Linked DNA regions of Homo sapiens: region 1 is linked to region 2. A link means that fine-mapping ties the variant in region 2 to the expression of a gene that starts in the linked region. Tissue or cell type: whole blood. Region 2 holds a variant in brackets; the other region holds the start of a gene. All regions are shown on one strand. Distances are from middle to middle.

Region 1 (8,140 bases), 120 kb after region 2:
GTTGGACACTGCCTAGTCTAGAATGAATTAGGTCCATCCTGGCTAGAGTTATGAGAAGGGCTATGCCTTCTGAACGACCTGCTTGGTCCCCAAACTGCCCTCACATCAAGGTTCACTCAATGTGGAATGCTGTTTCCCTGAGAATGTGCATGGGCTCTACAGCCATCCTCAGGGAATGACACGTGTCTTTTTATGCAGGACTTATCATAACCTTGATCTTGCAAATATTCAAGACACATGTCCAAGTGCAGGCTCATTTGAACGTTTCATCAGTGGAACACCTCTATCCATCTCACGCCATAGGGTCTCTCTCAACACCACCTGGGCAAACAATCCAAGGGCCTGGGGACAAAATGTTTATCACAGGGGGATGGGGAGATTTAGCCACTGGAAAGAAGGACCATTTTTAACCTAGCCGTTCCCACAAGGGAAACACACTTTCCATTTCCTCTTTCTCTTAACGAATTCTTAACTTCCTCTAGGTTCCCTTTTAGGAGGACCCTAATTTGTTGTTACAAATGCTCCCATTAAAGTCAAAATCCAGTTCATAAGGCACCTTCACTTCCTCTATCTCTTAGCGCTACTTTTCTAATAAGGAACTCATCCTAAAACTGGGAATCATGACAGCCAAATTTCATGGCGCATTTGTCTGCGCTGAATATTTTATCTGGATTCTCTACTTTAATTCATTCACATTTCCCTTCAGTTAATTCTACTTTGAGTCACTCTCTGCCCACCCACCATCCCTCAAGAAGAGTGTTATATCTCCACCCCTTGAAGCAGGTCATATGGGAAGGGAGTAGCAAAGCTAAAAACATAATGCAGACTCTGTCCCCAACCCAAGGGCTAACCCCACGAGTTCTCACTGGAAGCATGAACCCTACTATGTATTTCACCTGAGACCTCCAAGTGCTCACTTGTGGAAGTAAATGAACCCAAGCACTCTGTGGCTGTTGCTTTGCTCAACCCTGTGAAGGTGTTGCAAAATTCAATATGTACCATGTTTCCTTTAGTACTCACTAGGCAATTTACATACATTATCAGGGATCCTCCCAACCACCTGCACAAACAGATACTCCTGCCCTCATTTCAGAAAAGAGGATTCTGAGGGTCAGAGAAGCTCACCGGTCTACATGGATTTGAACCCAGATCTGTCTGGATTTAATGTCGTTTTTTCTGAGGTACCATACTCCTTCACCTGTATAGATGAATAAACTGACCAAGGAATTGATTTTTTGTTTTTTAAATGAGCTCATAATAAAATCCAGGAGGAATGGTTACAAGATAGACCTGAGACTGTTCTCAGAGTGCCTGGGCAGTTTCCAGCCTTTACTTCACAGCATTGCGCCAACCTCAGCTTCTCCTAGAGTAGGGTTGCCAGATAAATACAGGACACCCAGTTAAATGTGAATTTCAGAGAAACAGTGAATAATGTTTGAGTATAAGTATGTTCCATGTAGTTCATGAGACATATTTGTAGTGAAAAAAAAAACCATTGAGTGCTTATCTGAAATTCAAATCTGAGTGTCCCGTGCTTTTATTGGCTAAATCTGGCAATCTCTTCCTGCTGGGAAGTCTCCTGCCTGGCTCCAGGTCCCAAGTGTTGCTCCAACAGAAGTTGCCATGGCAGCCTGGCAGGCCTTCCAAAGCCTTCTAGAGCAGTCTCCACTCACCCCTGCAGCTTCCCCTCGCCCCTGCACGCTCTAGGTTCCCAACAAGCCCAGCTACTTTCATTTTCCTGGATGCCGCCCGCTGCTTCCAGCCTCCTGCTGCTTTTAGCCTCCAGTCTCTGCACTTGCTGTTCTTTCCCCTCTTCTCTTGTGCTAATTTCTAGTCATCCTTCAGCTCTCAATTTGGAGTCACTTCTGCCAGGACGCCCTCCTGGCCATTGCTGACTGGCTCCCCCCACAGCCCTCTAGTGCAGGGTTGGATAGTACCCTGCACCTTCCCCTGGCAGCCCTCCCTCAACCACCCGGTATCCCACACTGCCCTGGTGAGCAGAGGCCATGCCACACTCACCTTGTCCCCACACCTTGCACCTGGCCGCAGGTGGGAAGCCAGTGAGTGCCTCCTGAATGGATGACTGCAGACTGTCCCACCAATGCTGGGGCTCTCCAGTGTGACTACTTCCTTCCTCCCTTCTGTCTTTAGTCACTTTTTCATCAGTGTCCTCCTCCCCCTCCCCCAGAGTGGTTGGGAAAGACAGGGCCTTCAGCAACAGCACTTGGGGTGAACAGAGAGCATCCCACGTAGAGGGGCCTCCCAGCACCCACCACCACATCACACCACGTGCACTGCCCCAGTGGGCTCAGACCCAGCCACAGCGCAGCTTCCGAGTTCCTCCTGGCTAAAGCCACCTCTAGGCACAACTTTCTGCTCTTGTCCTTCTGCTGGCTCCTTAAATGAGCGGACTTGGATTTTGCTCCCAGTTTGGGGTATAGGGAGATGCCAGTGTCATGTGGTCGAGGCTTAGGGCAGGTGGCAGGGCTTGCAGAACATCACCCATATGCCGCTCCACGCTCACCCACCCAAAGCGGTGCCCACGCGCAGCCTGACAGCAGGCAGAGGCAGCTCTGAACTTAACCCTTGAGTGGCACTCAGGAGGCGGCTTCTCAAGATACCAGAATGGCCAGTGTTAACTACACACACACACACACACACACACACACACACACATACACACGAGCTCCCCTGTGCCCCAGAACACCCTTGCTTTCCTCCAGCCAGGGCTTGATTCAGAAGATGACCTCTCAGGTGCAAGGAGTGGCTGCAGGAGAGTCAGGGTGGGCTGGGGGTGAGACTATAACCCCTGGGGCTGCGGAAGGGCCCGGGAGGGAGCGGGGAGCGGGGGCAGGAGCTGAAACCCCGTGGCTCCCTAACCTGAGCTTTAGAGGCAGCAGCCTGGCTGTGCCCTCACACCGTCACCCCTAGCCTCCCCCAGCCTCCCCTGTCTGAATATGTTGAGAGGACAAAGAGGGAGAAACACCCTATAGTGTCAAATTTACTCCAAAAATAGAACCCCTCTTCCCCGCGGAAGGCTGGCGAGCTCCGGGCATGTGCACAGCACCCACGGCTCCGATTTCCTGGGTCTGGCCGTTTCTCCGGGAACTCCCAGCTCAGGTGCCCAGGATCCCGGAATTGTCCCCAACCCCTGCCACCCGGTCAAGCCTCCAACTTCTGCCGGGCGCAGCGCTCAGCCCTGGCTCGCGGGAGGGACTCACCCAGGGAGGCGCGGACTCCAGCGACTACTCCTCGGGCACCGCCAGGTGAGCCGGGACGGCGGCAAGTACAGGTAAGTCGGCCGGGCAGGTAGGTGTGCAACGGCTCCGGAGGCTGTGGCTGAGTAAAAGGGCTGACAGGTTAGATTCTCCCTCCTCCTCTGAGTTGTTAACCACACCCCTGCTGCTCTCCTCCCCACTTCCTTAAAGGGTGGGGTGTGTTGTCTGTGTGTGCCGGCTCCAGCCTCTTACCATAAACTCTGAAATAGACGCTGCCACCAATTCCCTGAGCGCCGGGCAGACCTGGGGGGCGATCTCTGCCATTCCCCCGGCCGCAAATGGGATCCTCGGATGTTATGTGCCCCTTGTGAGCAGTTAACTCCCCAATTCCTAACACCCCTCCATCCTCTGTCCACTCCACCTGCAGCCTTTTGGAGGCCAAAAGGTGTGTGTGAGGTGGGTGGGGGCGCAGGGCGGGCGGAGGAAACCAACTTCTCAGGCTGGTTCTCCCAAGACCCCCCGCAGTGGGAGATGTTATATCTACATGGTACTGAGCACTTGTGTCCTAATCTCTCCATGTCCTAAAGTGGCCCCAGTCCCTTTGCAGGCATGAAAAATCATAAATACCACTAGGGATTTTGGCAGAACCGGTCCAGGTCCCTGAACACAGAAGACCAGGTCCCTGAGCTGTGACTAAGTAGGGTCTGAGGACAGCACAAGAATAGTTAGAGATGCTGGACAGCCCCTTCCAGGGGCCCCGCCCAGAGGCTGGTCCCCTCTTTCCTCAGGCCGGTGATATGTGAGCAGGCACTCAAGGGCACTTAGCAACACTTCTTCCCTATCCCTAGGAAAACTCCAGACTTGCTCCTGAGTAGGAGGAGGAAGTGACCTGGACTTGGCATAAAGTGAAAAAAGTGGAGTGTACGCAGCATCATCCTCATCCTACAATGTCCTCTCCAGAGCCCCTGTCCCAAGCTTCTTTATTCTGTGTCCTGTGCAGGATTGGAATCTGATTCCCAGAGCTGCCCTGTTGCACAATTCTAGAGGATGCTATTCACAATGTACTTTCTGAGAATGGCGCCCCCTGGAGTTGTGCTGAGGAAGCACTCAGTTTCCAAGATTGCACTGACTCCTTCCCATTTCTGAAAAGAAACTGGAGACTTAGATAAGTTAACAAAGCTAGGAAGTCAATGTTTCTCAAAGTATAATTAGTGGACTACCCATAGCTATTGGCTGGATGTCACTCTGGGTCCGATGAAGATCAGACTCTCTGCAGCTAGGGCCCACCTGCCCAGCATGGGGCTCACAACCCATTGATGGGCACTGCCAGCCTTGACAGCTGGAGCCCCCCCACCCCTTCCCATTTGTGCTATTCACAGATTTGTCACGTTCCCAGCACTCAGCATTTTGGAGGTAATCTTGGTGACTACACAGCGGTCAGCAGGTCAGAAGGTGGTCAGGTGGGAGAACTTGGCCAGGGATGGAGAGGCAAGTCAGACAGAGGTACACTGAAGTTAGCAGGGAAGGTGTGGGGATGAGGAGGCAGGTAATTGACTACATGGCAAGGACATGGTCAGAGGGCATCTGACAGTGGGTGTCCCCTCCGTATTCTTGCGCTTGGAAATGAAGTGATGAAGGCTGAGTGGCACAAAAGTTAGATACCTGGGTGAGTTGTTGAGAGTCTGTACTAGGAGGTGGCAGTGGGAACTAAAAGCAAAGACAATCAAGACCTGTTTAAGAAAAGGAGAGTTTGTGTGTGCTGCCCCTGTGTGGCCACATAAATGAACTACAATCTTATCTTGCTGGGACCAATTCTGGGAAAGGTGAGTTTTCAGAGGTTGTTGAATTCTTCAGCACTTTAAAAAAAGAATCTCCCAAATCTACCTCACAGAATCATAAACCCATAGCTTTTTAAATGAAAAAGACATTGAGAAACTCTCTGGGGTGGCCAACTCCGCCATCAGGTCTCCCTAGGTTCTGTCCAGTGTCATGTACAAGCAACTCAGGTGACAAGGTCATGCATTTCTGCCTGTTACTGCCTTTTAAAAAAACCCATCAGAAATGCCTCAGGAGCCCTCAAATTCCATGGAAATCCCTAAAAGACACTATCCATGGCGATGCTCTCCATATGGCATAAGTTGCAATAATGATCTACCCCAGTTAGAGAAGAAAAATATTTCCCTTCTACTTCTGTATCTCAAGCTGACCAAGTGCCATGTGGGAGGCCCTAATTGTGGGGGTGTTGGGGGGATGCATACCTGGATCAGAAGAAGGAGAAAACTGTAATGAAAAAGGCCTTTGAACAAATGTCCTTTCAGCTGCTGGACTCTTCCATTTGGATGTTCCACTCTTACCCCAAACTCAGGTCTATAACCCTGGCTCATATTGCTCTTCAAACAAGCCCCGTTCCAGCCCTCCCTGTGAATGTCAACAAAAGAGAAGTCACCTTTGACTCTCCCTCTCCCTCCTTACCCTGCAGCCATGCAATCTCCAATCTCTAAGTCCTGGGAGTCCCACAAACTTTTTTCCTATTCCTCGTTTTCTTTCCTGTCCTATTGACCCATCCTGGTTCAGGTTCTCTTTTCTTATCTTTTCACTAACTGGAGATCACAAAGGTGGTTGAGCTGGTGATTAACTTTTGGGATGGCATTTGAAACCACAAGAATGGATAAACTTGTCTAAGGCAAGAGTCAGAGACAGCAGAGGACTTCAAGTGAAGCTCTTACCAGGAGCAAATGAATGAAGAGCCAAAGGTCAAGTGGGGTGGGCTGATAAGTAAACTGAAAGTGAAGACACAGAGGCGGCACGCGCTGATGAGTCCTGGAAAGCTTGACTGCCAAGGGCAATTGAGACCAGGGGATATTGGAGGGGGTCGTGGGTTGAAAGAGGACTGATTTGTCATTTAGGATGATAGCCAGTAGAGCAGGTTTCAATGCTCACAGGAAGGATCCAGTCAAGAGGGAAGAGGTTGTGACTTTGGACATGCGAATCCATCTTTCTGAGCTTTTATTTCCTAATCTAGAAAAGTAGAAAAATAAGTATTATCTGTTCTACCTGTTTCCCAGGGTATTGTGAAGCCCAAATTAAGTGATAGGTGTACAAATGCTATGAAAAATTCTATAGCTATAATTTTTAGAAATGATAGCAATTAAAGTAAGCTTTATGGGGAGATAGTACATACATACCTGCCATATAGTTTATCAAGTGTTCACTCTGTGCCAAGAACTTTCATCTGCCGTCTAGCTTGTCTTCACAACCGTCTATGAAGTTGCTAGTCCTATTCCTGGTTTGCAGAAAGGAAAAGGAAGCTTGGATAAGGTAAATAAATTATTCACAGGCTCCCAGGTGGTAAAGAGCAAAACCCATCATTGGCAGGGCTGCGACATTATGTAACTGGCATCTCTCCATTGTAAATGATGGAATTTAAATTACATCATGTAAATTTACTATTATGTAGAATAAATTTTATTTTAAAAGAACAGTATGGTTATAAGTATTCTAACAAAAAAAATGGATAAATACAAAAACTAGCTGGGCATAGTGGTGTATGCCTGTAGTCCCAGCTCCTTGGTGGGGCTGAGGCAGGAGAATCGCTTGAACCTGGGAGGCAGAGGTTACAGTGAGCTATAATCATGCCACTGCACTCCAGCCTGGGTGACAGAGTGATAGTCCATTTAAAAAAAAAAAGGGACAAAGAAAAACTTATGGGTACAAGTACTGAAAAAAGTACTTCATCACCAAGGGATGTCTACCTCTAATTTAACCAGACATCACTATGTTTACGAAGTGGGCCACAGTTGAGGCCAAAATAAGTTGAGTATGGCTTGAATAGAACTCAAAATCATGCCCTCAACCTAAAAAAGAACTTTCTCTTTTCTTTCCTTAATATTGGAATCCCTGACTTTCAGATGGTCACAGCCTGCCCAAAATGAAGGCTACATTTCCCAGTCTCCCTTGCATGTGTGACCAGGTGCGACCATGTGATTAAGTTCTCCGCAATGGTTGAAGAGTAGAAGTTATGCACGCAACTCCAGAATCATGCCCCTCAAGGGAATGAGCACATCCTCCAATATTTTCCACTTTATCTTTTCCACCTCCACCTGACAATGAAACCTGGAGCAGCCATCCAGTCTATGATGTTAAGAATCCGGGTACCTAATGCCGTCCAGCCACCATGCTTACCCTGGACATAGTCTGAACCTAGTTTAACTTTTACATGAGAAAGAAATTTAAGTTGCTTGGGTTACTTTATTTTGGCCTTTCTGTTACCATAGCCTGAACTGCATCGGTGATACTATGACATAATAAGAAATATATATTTGGTCTCTGACCGTGCACACAACTTCTAAAACCCTTGGAATTTCTGGAGTGTTAAGAATGTTTTTTTGAGGCCAGGCATGGTGGCTCATGCCTATAATCCAAACACTTTGAGAGGCTGAGGTGGGAGGATTGCTTGAGGCCAAGAGTTCGAGGCCAGCCTGGCCAACGTGGCAAGACTTCATCTGTACAAAAAAATACAAAAATTAGCTGGGCATGGTGGTATGCACCTGTAGTTTTAGCTGCTTGGGAGGCTGATGCAAGAGGATTGCTTGAGCCCAGGAGACTGAGGATGCAATGAGCTATGATTGCACCAGTGGATGAATTTAGCTTGGGCAACAGAGCAACACCCTGTCTCAAAAAAAAAAAAAAAAAAAAAAAAAAAAAGCCTTTTGTATGCCAATGAGATGCCTGGTGGCTTAGGTATCTTAGATCCCTTAGATAGCTTCAGGATGAGGGCTGGTCATCAGAAAAACTGAGGTATGATGAGAAGGCTGAACTTTCAGCGCTATCCCTAAAACTTGGGGAAGGAAAGGGGCTGAAGGTTGAGTTGATCACCCATGGCCAATACTGTAATCAGTCATGCCTACATAAAGAAGCCTTCC
Region 2 (8,000 bases):
GAGAGAGAAGGGCAGGGTGCTAGGCAGGGAGAGGAATGGGGTGGAGGGAGCGGAGGGGAAGCTGGCCTGCCCCACATGCTCTGAATTAAATCATGGCCGATGCTGCAGGGAATGCAGACAGACTCCGCTGCTCCCTGCCCTGGGCGGTGGGCAAGGATGGTGGCTCTGCACAAGGTGCCAAGAGGAAACCCCCCGAAGAAGGGCGGGAACACTCACGGTAGCCGACCTCCTTCTCTGGCGTCTGGAGGAAGGAGGAAAGAGAACAGGAACGTCACTCATGCGGCTGTGGAGACAACCCCCTCCCTGGTTACCCATTCCCCAGTCCCTCCACTGTGTGTTTAGAGATTACAGCCATGGGGTCGGGGGTGCTTCTGGGAGCAGCTCGTGACCCAATGTGACCTTTCTGGGAGGCCGAGGGGCCCTGGGGAGGGCCACAGACAGCACTAAGGGCACGATCACAGGAGAGTTCAGGAAAAGGGCCATGTAGGGATTGGCAGAAAAGGAAAAGACACCCTCCCAACATGGAAAGCCATTGAGGAGGAGCTGGGCAGGCCTGGGGGTAGGAGCAAGTTGGGCGGGGGGTCCTATGGTGGGCGAGGCCTTCCCAGGCCTTGGCATGGAGGAGGCGGCCTCTCCTGGCAACTCACCAATGGGGACTTATCATTCATATAAACCATGGGGTCCTGCAGAGGAAGAAACAAGAGCGAAGGACTAAGAATTCTGGAGCTGAAAGCACCAAGAATGCAGGGGACCCTTGCCCCAGCCACCTGGGGAGGTGGAAGAGGACACAGATGGGTGCAGGGCACCGACATCCTTCCTGGGGTGCTCACCAGGGACTTCTCCTCCTGCCTGAGCCACTGGTAGTCCTCCACCATCTGCTTCTGCTGTTTGTCCAGGATTTGCCGCATTTTGACCTTTTCAGCCTCCCACAGCTGCTGGGCCTCTTCTCGGCTGCTGGGTTGGATGAAGTCCTCCTCCTGGGAGGACGGCAGAGAGAAGGGAGAGGATGCAATGAGCCCTGCTCTCAGACTCAGGGAGGGACAGTCCTCTGAAGAACCTCATGGCAGCTGCAAGCCTTGGCCTGGCCAGCTGCTTTTTTCTCATAAGTTTGTTCTTAAACCCAGAGCTATATGTGCAGACAGCTATCCAGTATCAGCCCCGAGCATGTATCTGCGTTGCAATGTGATACCAAACCCAAGAACCCACTGCTCAACGTGCGCTGTATTCAAATGATTACACGATCTGCTCATGATATTTTACCAAGTGACTGCCCTACTATTATCTCAGTGTTTGTGATGGTTGTTGTCATTTAATATATTTTAAAAAGAAAAGCTATTAAAGTCTATTAAAATCTATTTTAAAATCTACTAAAAGCATCCAAAGGGTTTCCAAGGGGCTGGCTTTGCTTAGTTGGAGAGCATCACACCCTTCTGATGCTATCTCCACCTAAGGACCAAGGTGGCAGGTCTGGAAGCTTCGAGAGACAGGGGTGCTGCCTCTAGCCTCACGGTGTGCAGTCCCACGTGTGTCCATGAATGAGCAGAGCCTGAGAGAACAAGCAACAGCATGCACCCACCAACCATGCCTTCCTATTAAGACACATTCTTTATTAAGATAATAGCTTGGGTTATTTAACTAAATGTTAGGAGAAATGCATGAGCTAAGAGATAAAATAAGGAACAAAATTTCATGAAATACAGCTCTATAGAGATAAGATAAATGCAATCATAGCTTGAGTTATTTAACCAATGATTAGAAGAAATTCATGAACTAATAGATAAAATGAAAAACAAAATTCAAAGAAATATAGTTTGATAGAGAGAAGATAAATGCTTCCTCTCCCTAGATCTAGTAATCTAACTCTTGCTTTAACTTACCTCTGGGGCTTTGGACCTATTCATAATTTTAGCTGCTAGTTCCTAAACAGAAAGTATTGCATGTCTTCCTATTTTCATTCAGTCTTCCCCCACGGTTCATTTGTATAAATATCTGCTCAGTGTCTCTAAACTATTTTGCTCTTGTTGTGCTGCACATGGGGACCCTGGCCTCCTGGACAGATGGAGGAGGAATATTATTGGCATCCTCTTGATTGCACAAAGCCCAGGAGTTGCCTTTGCTAGGGCAGGATTCTTCTGTGACATCTAAGCTGGCAGGTCCCTCAGTTCCTTGCCTTTGAAGTGGCCATTTGCATACAGGTCACTTGCAGAAGATGCTAACAATTATCTCTATCTACTTTTAGCAAGCAATAATTCCTACCAAGCCTCTTAAAAGAGTTTCCTCACTAAGCCCTACAAAACACACTTGAATATTACAATATGGTCTAAAAGTGGTTATATTGGGATGTTTTACTTAGTGCACACTGAGCTTCAATTACTAACCTCAATTTCTAATCACACGTTTCCCCATGAGTTAGGTTTCTTGCTGAAATATTTATTCATTAATCTATTCAACAATTATTTATTAAGCAACTACTATGTGGCAGGGCTGGGTGCTGGGAGGACAGTGATGTTAAACTATACGATGTTCTTATTCTCGTGGGGTTAAGTAAATACTAGTCAGACCAAGGCTCCTCAACCTCAGCACTACTGACATTTGGAGCCAGACAAGTCCTTATTTCCAGGGCAATTTCCTGTGCATTGTACGATGCTTAGCAGCATCTCTGGCCTCCCCACAATATATGCCTATAGCACCACCCCAGTTGTAACAAAAATGCTGCCAGACATTGTCAAATGTCCTCTCAGAGGGAAAATAACTTAGCTGAGAACCACTGAGCTAGACCTTATTTTAGGAAAACAAATTCCAGCATATAAGAGTATTTTATAATCATGGAATTGATAAAAATAAAATAGGTTTTGTTGATCAGAGGCTGATACTCAAAAATGAGGACATTTTAAGGCCATAAAAATCCCCAGTTAAATGTCAACACCTGCAGACACAATGGCATGGCTGCCCCAGGCTGTTGACAAATAGTGACAAACAGGAACTAAGTGTCAAAAGTTCTAAATATAGAGTTAGGGATTTCTGGATGTGAGAAAAATGTATGGGTTAAGGAAGAGTATGGTAAGTACCAGTTGGATGAGCTACTAGAATCAAGAAAATTCTACAAGTATTTGTAAGTATTTGTAAGTTTATAAGTGTT[G/A]ACAGAAGATTCCACCACTAAAATGCCTAGCATGCCTCAGGCCTGATCGTACCACATATTCTAACAAACACAGATTAGGAGACATCCTGATGCCTTCCAATTTCATAATAAAACTCAAGGAGAAAAATGAACACTCAAAAAAATGGAATCTCTTTGAGGTTGGTTTTGCTGAAATGCGCCTCCAATATTCTTATTAGGTAATGGATACTTACATTGCTCATTACATTCTATTCTTAAAAGGAATTGGGTACTCATGGTGTTTTAAAATGACTCTCGTAAGTTGTGACACCTTCCATAATCTGGCTATGACCCATCTGTTGGCTTTATTTCCACATCCACAAGTACCCTTCCTGCTGTAGTCCAACAGTTCTTGCACTTGTCCTGTGGTTTCCCACCACTCAGTCTTGCCTCCTACTGAAGCCCCTGCCTCTTCCATTCCCTGAATCTCAGTTTCCTCCTGTCCACATCTTTCCCATCTTTCAAGGCCCAACTTTTAAATAGAAGCTGGAAAGGGTTGTCCTCCTCTCTGAACTCCCACTTTGTGGTACCCACGACCTTCTGGCTTGCATTACAGGTAAGTGTGCACCTGGTCTGATCCTTCTGGTCGACTGTAAGCGCTTTGAAAGCAGCGCCTCCCCCCTTCAGCACCGAGGACAGCGTCCAGCAATCACAGCAAGCCCTACTGTTTATTGAATTGTATTATTTTTATTTTATTTATTTTTATTTTTGAGACAGGGTTTTGCTCTGTTGCCCAGGTTGGAGTGCAGTGGCGTGATCTCAGCTCACTGCAACCTCTGCCTCCCAGGTTCAAGTGATCTCCTGCCTCAGCCTCCTGAGTAGCTGGGATTACAGGTGCACACTACCATGCCTGACTAATTTTTTGTATTTTTAGTACAGATGGGGTTTTGCCATGATGGCCAGGCTGGTCTCAGACTCCTGACATCAAGTGATCCACCCACCTTGGCCTCCCAAAATGCTGGGATTACAGGCGTGAGCCACCACGCCTGGCCTTGAATTGTATTATTTTTAAAGCTCAATTGTGAGGTCTTCAGGAGAGAGACTGCTGCCATCCCAATGCTGGTATGGCATCCCACAGACTCCCTGATGAGTCAGGCTATAGAGCCACTCAGTAGAAAAACTGTTTTTCTGGGAACACCACCTCTGTATTTTTGTTAAATGCTTCCAAATGCTTTGTGAGGAGCCTATTATACCTTCTCAGCATTCTACCTGGAAGAGACTTTCTCAGTGTTTCTGATCTGTGTCATAAAATGGAGCTTATATTTTTAACTTTTTTGGGTTTGTTTATTTAAAGACATGCTCATTATGTTCTTTTAGGCAGATTTTCCTTATGTCAATTACTTCTAAAGCCCTGATACAAAAGGTCTTTTTTCCTACTGCACAATCTCTTTATGGAACTGAACAAGGTCCTTGTGGAGAAGCAGGAAATTGGACGAAGGCAATGCTACCCCTCAAATGTGCAAAATAGCTTCTTTCTAAAATAACACAATTTAAAGCAAAACTTACTAAAACAATCATTTATGAATAGAGAGTCAAAGGCAGGAGGGTGGAGAAACCGAACACAGCCTAAATTATAGCACATGCCTAAAAATGTAGTTTATTATTGTTAAGCACACGCAAAGACAGAAATTGGTTAAATTAATATAAAAGAGAAAAACGAGGTAGGTCAGAGGAAAATTGATTTCACAAAAAATCTTAGTGTCTGGAATTCTAAGTTATCATGCTCATTTCAAAATTCTACTAAATTAAGCATAATGGCATGAAAGTAATATCAGCATACTTGCCTACATCTTCCAAATATATTATGATAAACATCTAATTTTTTTCAAAAAATATTTTAGTCATGTTTAGTGAGCCTGAAATATTGTGCATGCATGCAGAGTTAGAGCTAAAATAAGTGTTTTAGTTGGTTTAGTAAAATAGATCAAGTGTTCGTGGCAACTGACCACTAGGGGCCATTTGTATGGAAGAAGGTGGTTGGTGACCAGTGGGCATCTGGTTATAAGCAAAAGTGTCTTTTTCACACAAGACCTGACAATCAGAAGCCAGCCATGAAGCACTCCGGGCTTCACCAGCAGTTAACAACCCCCCGTGACAAAGAGCTGACAAGGGAAGTGGCTTAGGTCCCTGCTCTAGCCAGTTAATGAGGCTGTATTCCCACTAGCCCTAAACTCCTTCTCACCCAGCAGCAGCCTGAACAAAAGCAGAAAGGGGAGCAGCCACAAGAAAGCCTTTCCTTTGACTGAGGAGAGATTTCACACCCAAAGCCATCATTTAGGAAGGATACTCTCCAGCACCACTAAGCTGTGCTGTGCCCTGCCTAGGAGCCTCCAAGCTGCCACAGATCCCCCTACCCCTGGGGCTCAGGAGAGGGGGAGATTTGTACATCTCTAGCCATAGCACCAGCATGGCCAAGGGCAGGTTAGGTCCAGCTGGTGTCCTCCAGAGCAGGGCCTGGTGTGGCTGCCAGCCTCTGATGTGTTTGCAAAGGGAAGGAAGTCACAGAGTGCCACCTCAGTGGCCTGACTGGTGCATGGGAACAGGAAGGGCCCTCCTGAGCTGAGGACGTGGGGTTTCCAGTGTCCCCGGCCACCTCCCTCCAGCAGCCTCCTCAGTCCGGGCAGGGACCAGCATGCAGAGCCCTCTTACCCGCATGCTGTGGCGTTTGAAGACATTGTGCCGGTGGAGAGGTGGGGTGTGCAGTGAGTTAACGGGAGATGGATACTCCATAGGGCTGGTGAGCGTAGGAGAGCTGGCACACAGACCCTCAGGAACCTATTCAGGAAAAGCAAAGAAGCACAAGGCACGGGACAAAGCGAGAAGGTAGACAATTAGCTGCTACAAACACGAGCACAAAGAAACTATGCATGAGCACCACAGGGAATGGGGCTTGCTCTCCAGGAGTTAATAAAGAACAAAACGTGGGCCTTCCATTGCTCCGAGAGAGATGGTGGAGCAGTGCAGCCTCTCATTCATCCAACATTCCCCCAAGATGCTCTGCACACAGTGGGGTCCATGCTGGTTACGGACCCACTGAGACCAGGGCTCTTCCTTCAGGACTCTTCAAAAAATAGTTGTTTCAGTTGCATTACAGACTGACTGATGTGGTTAACACACCAATTTATACAGATATGTATGAATTGTTTTTTAAAAATTCAGATAGGCTCTTGCTCTGTTGCCCAGGCTGGGATGCAGTGGTATGATCACAGCTCACTGCAGCCTTAAACTCTTGGCCTCAAGTAATCCTCTTGCCTCAGCCTCCCACATAGCTGGGACTACGGATGCATGCCACCATGCCTGCCTTGAATTTTTTTTAATTAAAAAATAAGTATATCACAATTTTATTGTATTACTATTTGTTTTTAGAGATGGGGTCTCACTATATTGCCCAGGCTGGTCTCAAACTCCTGAGCTCAATGAATCCTCCCATCTCACCCTCCTTAGTAGCTGGGACTACAGGTGTGTTCCACCCTACCTAACTCCCTGTTTTAAATATTGCACATGGGTATATCTCTTTTTTTTCAGAACGATTTTTCCATCTTCTGAATCAGGCTTTCTCTTCACGTGAAGAGGATTTATCTATTAGTCCTTAGATGGTCTTGTTTTGGCACTCAGGCATTTCCTTGAGAACAAATATAGGACCATGGGACACCACCTTTCTATAAAGGGCACCAACTAAATGGACATTATTTCTGGTGGTTGAGGGGATCAATTTTTGAGCAGTGGCTCTGAGCTGGGGGATGCAAGAGAAGAAATAAGAGGAGACTGGACTCCCTCTCTCCTAGAGGCAAGAGAGACACAGAACAGAGACATTCAGGGTCAGGGACGCACAGCCTGGGAAAGAGTCATGGTTGGGGATAATGGAGCTGGGAGAAAGCTCAGGTAAAACCCTGCTGTCTCTTCAATGGCCACCCAGGTTCTGGATGGGGCCTCTTTGGGGAGTCCCATGGAGCTACTCCATTTGTTGGGAAATATTCCCTGGGATTCCTTCTGGTAAGGAGGCCAGGGAGGCCTTAGATGTGGGGAGAGAGCAGCAGGCAGGCACACAAAGCAGCAGATGATGTAGACAGAGGGATGGGGCTTAAGGCAGGTCTTAGCTGAGCACAGCCTGGGAGAACTGCATTTTAATTCTTGTGATCTGAGTCTGCATTCTGTTCTGGGTGCCAAAGAAGAGTCAACCTAGGCCATCTCCATCACCCAAGTGGGTGACTGCTGCTCCTCTAAGGCACAAGAATGGAGTTTCAGGACCTGGATGAGAGGTAGACCTGAAGTTCCCGTCCTCTGGTTCTATCTTTACCTGGAACTGCAGCTTTGGAGCCAGGAGGTTGGTTTGCGGAGGGGGTCTGTACTTAGGTCGGCTGGGCTGGAGAGAGAACACAGATGGGTCAGTCTCTGTCCCTCTCCTTGAGTGAACACAACTCACCAAGGGGAACATCAGGTCAAAGACACCTCAGGCTTGTTCCAAAGGAAGGAAAGTTGAGGGACAAAGCTGTCATGAAACTCATTTTGCATCCATTTATTGAGCACTGATTATCTACTGAGTGGTGGAAGGTACAAAGAAGCCACCTCACTGCCCTCCCGGGGCTATGGCTAATTGGAGGGTTAATGATTGGTGCATGTGTTGCTTCCCTATACGTGGGAGCACCCACCAAGTCAGAGCTCCAGAGCCACAGGCATGCAGAGGTAGGAGCTCACCAGGGGCTTGGGCATTCACAGAAGCTGCATGGAGGAGATGAACGCTGAGCCAGGCCCGCGGGGAGGGGTGGGACATGCCAGGCAAGAGGGACAAGTGAGAAAAGGCCTTAGATGGGATCAGACATTGTTATGGACTGAATATTTGTCC

Evidence for each region. PIP is the estimated chance that this variant, and not a neighbour inherited with it, causes the effect.
Region 1: it holds the start of PTK2B, and the variant in region 2 is fine-mapped to the expression of PTK2B in whole blood (INTERVAL, PIP 0.96).

What each region holds. Positions count from the first base shown.
Region 1 is chr8:27,320,763-27,328,902 of GRCh38, reverse strand. PTK2B (protein tyrosine kinase 2 beta) reads right to left here and starts at 3,351. Exons shown (of 31, transcript NM_173176.3): 1 at 3,222-3,351. RefSeq lists a silencer at 1,268-1,464 and enhancers at 2,207-2,276, 1,622-2,451, 3,057-3,106, 3,157-3,306.
Region 2 is chr8:27,443,726-27,451,725 of GRCh38, reverse strand. PTK2B (protein tyrosine kinase 2 beta) reads right to left here. Exons shown (of 31, transcript NM_173176.3): 23 at 7,455-7,520; 24 at 5,807-5,932; 25 at 831-977; 26 at 648-683; 27 at 217-241. Among named protein-coding and RNA genes, the nearest start is that of MIR6842, 14 kb to the right of the region's middle. The variant G/A (reference allele first, on the strand shown) is at 3,140.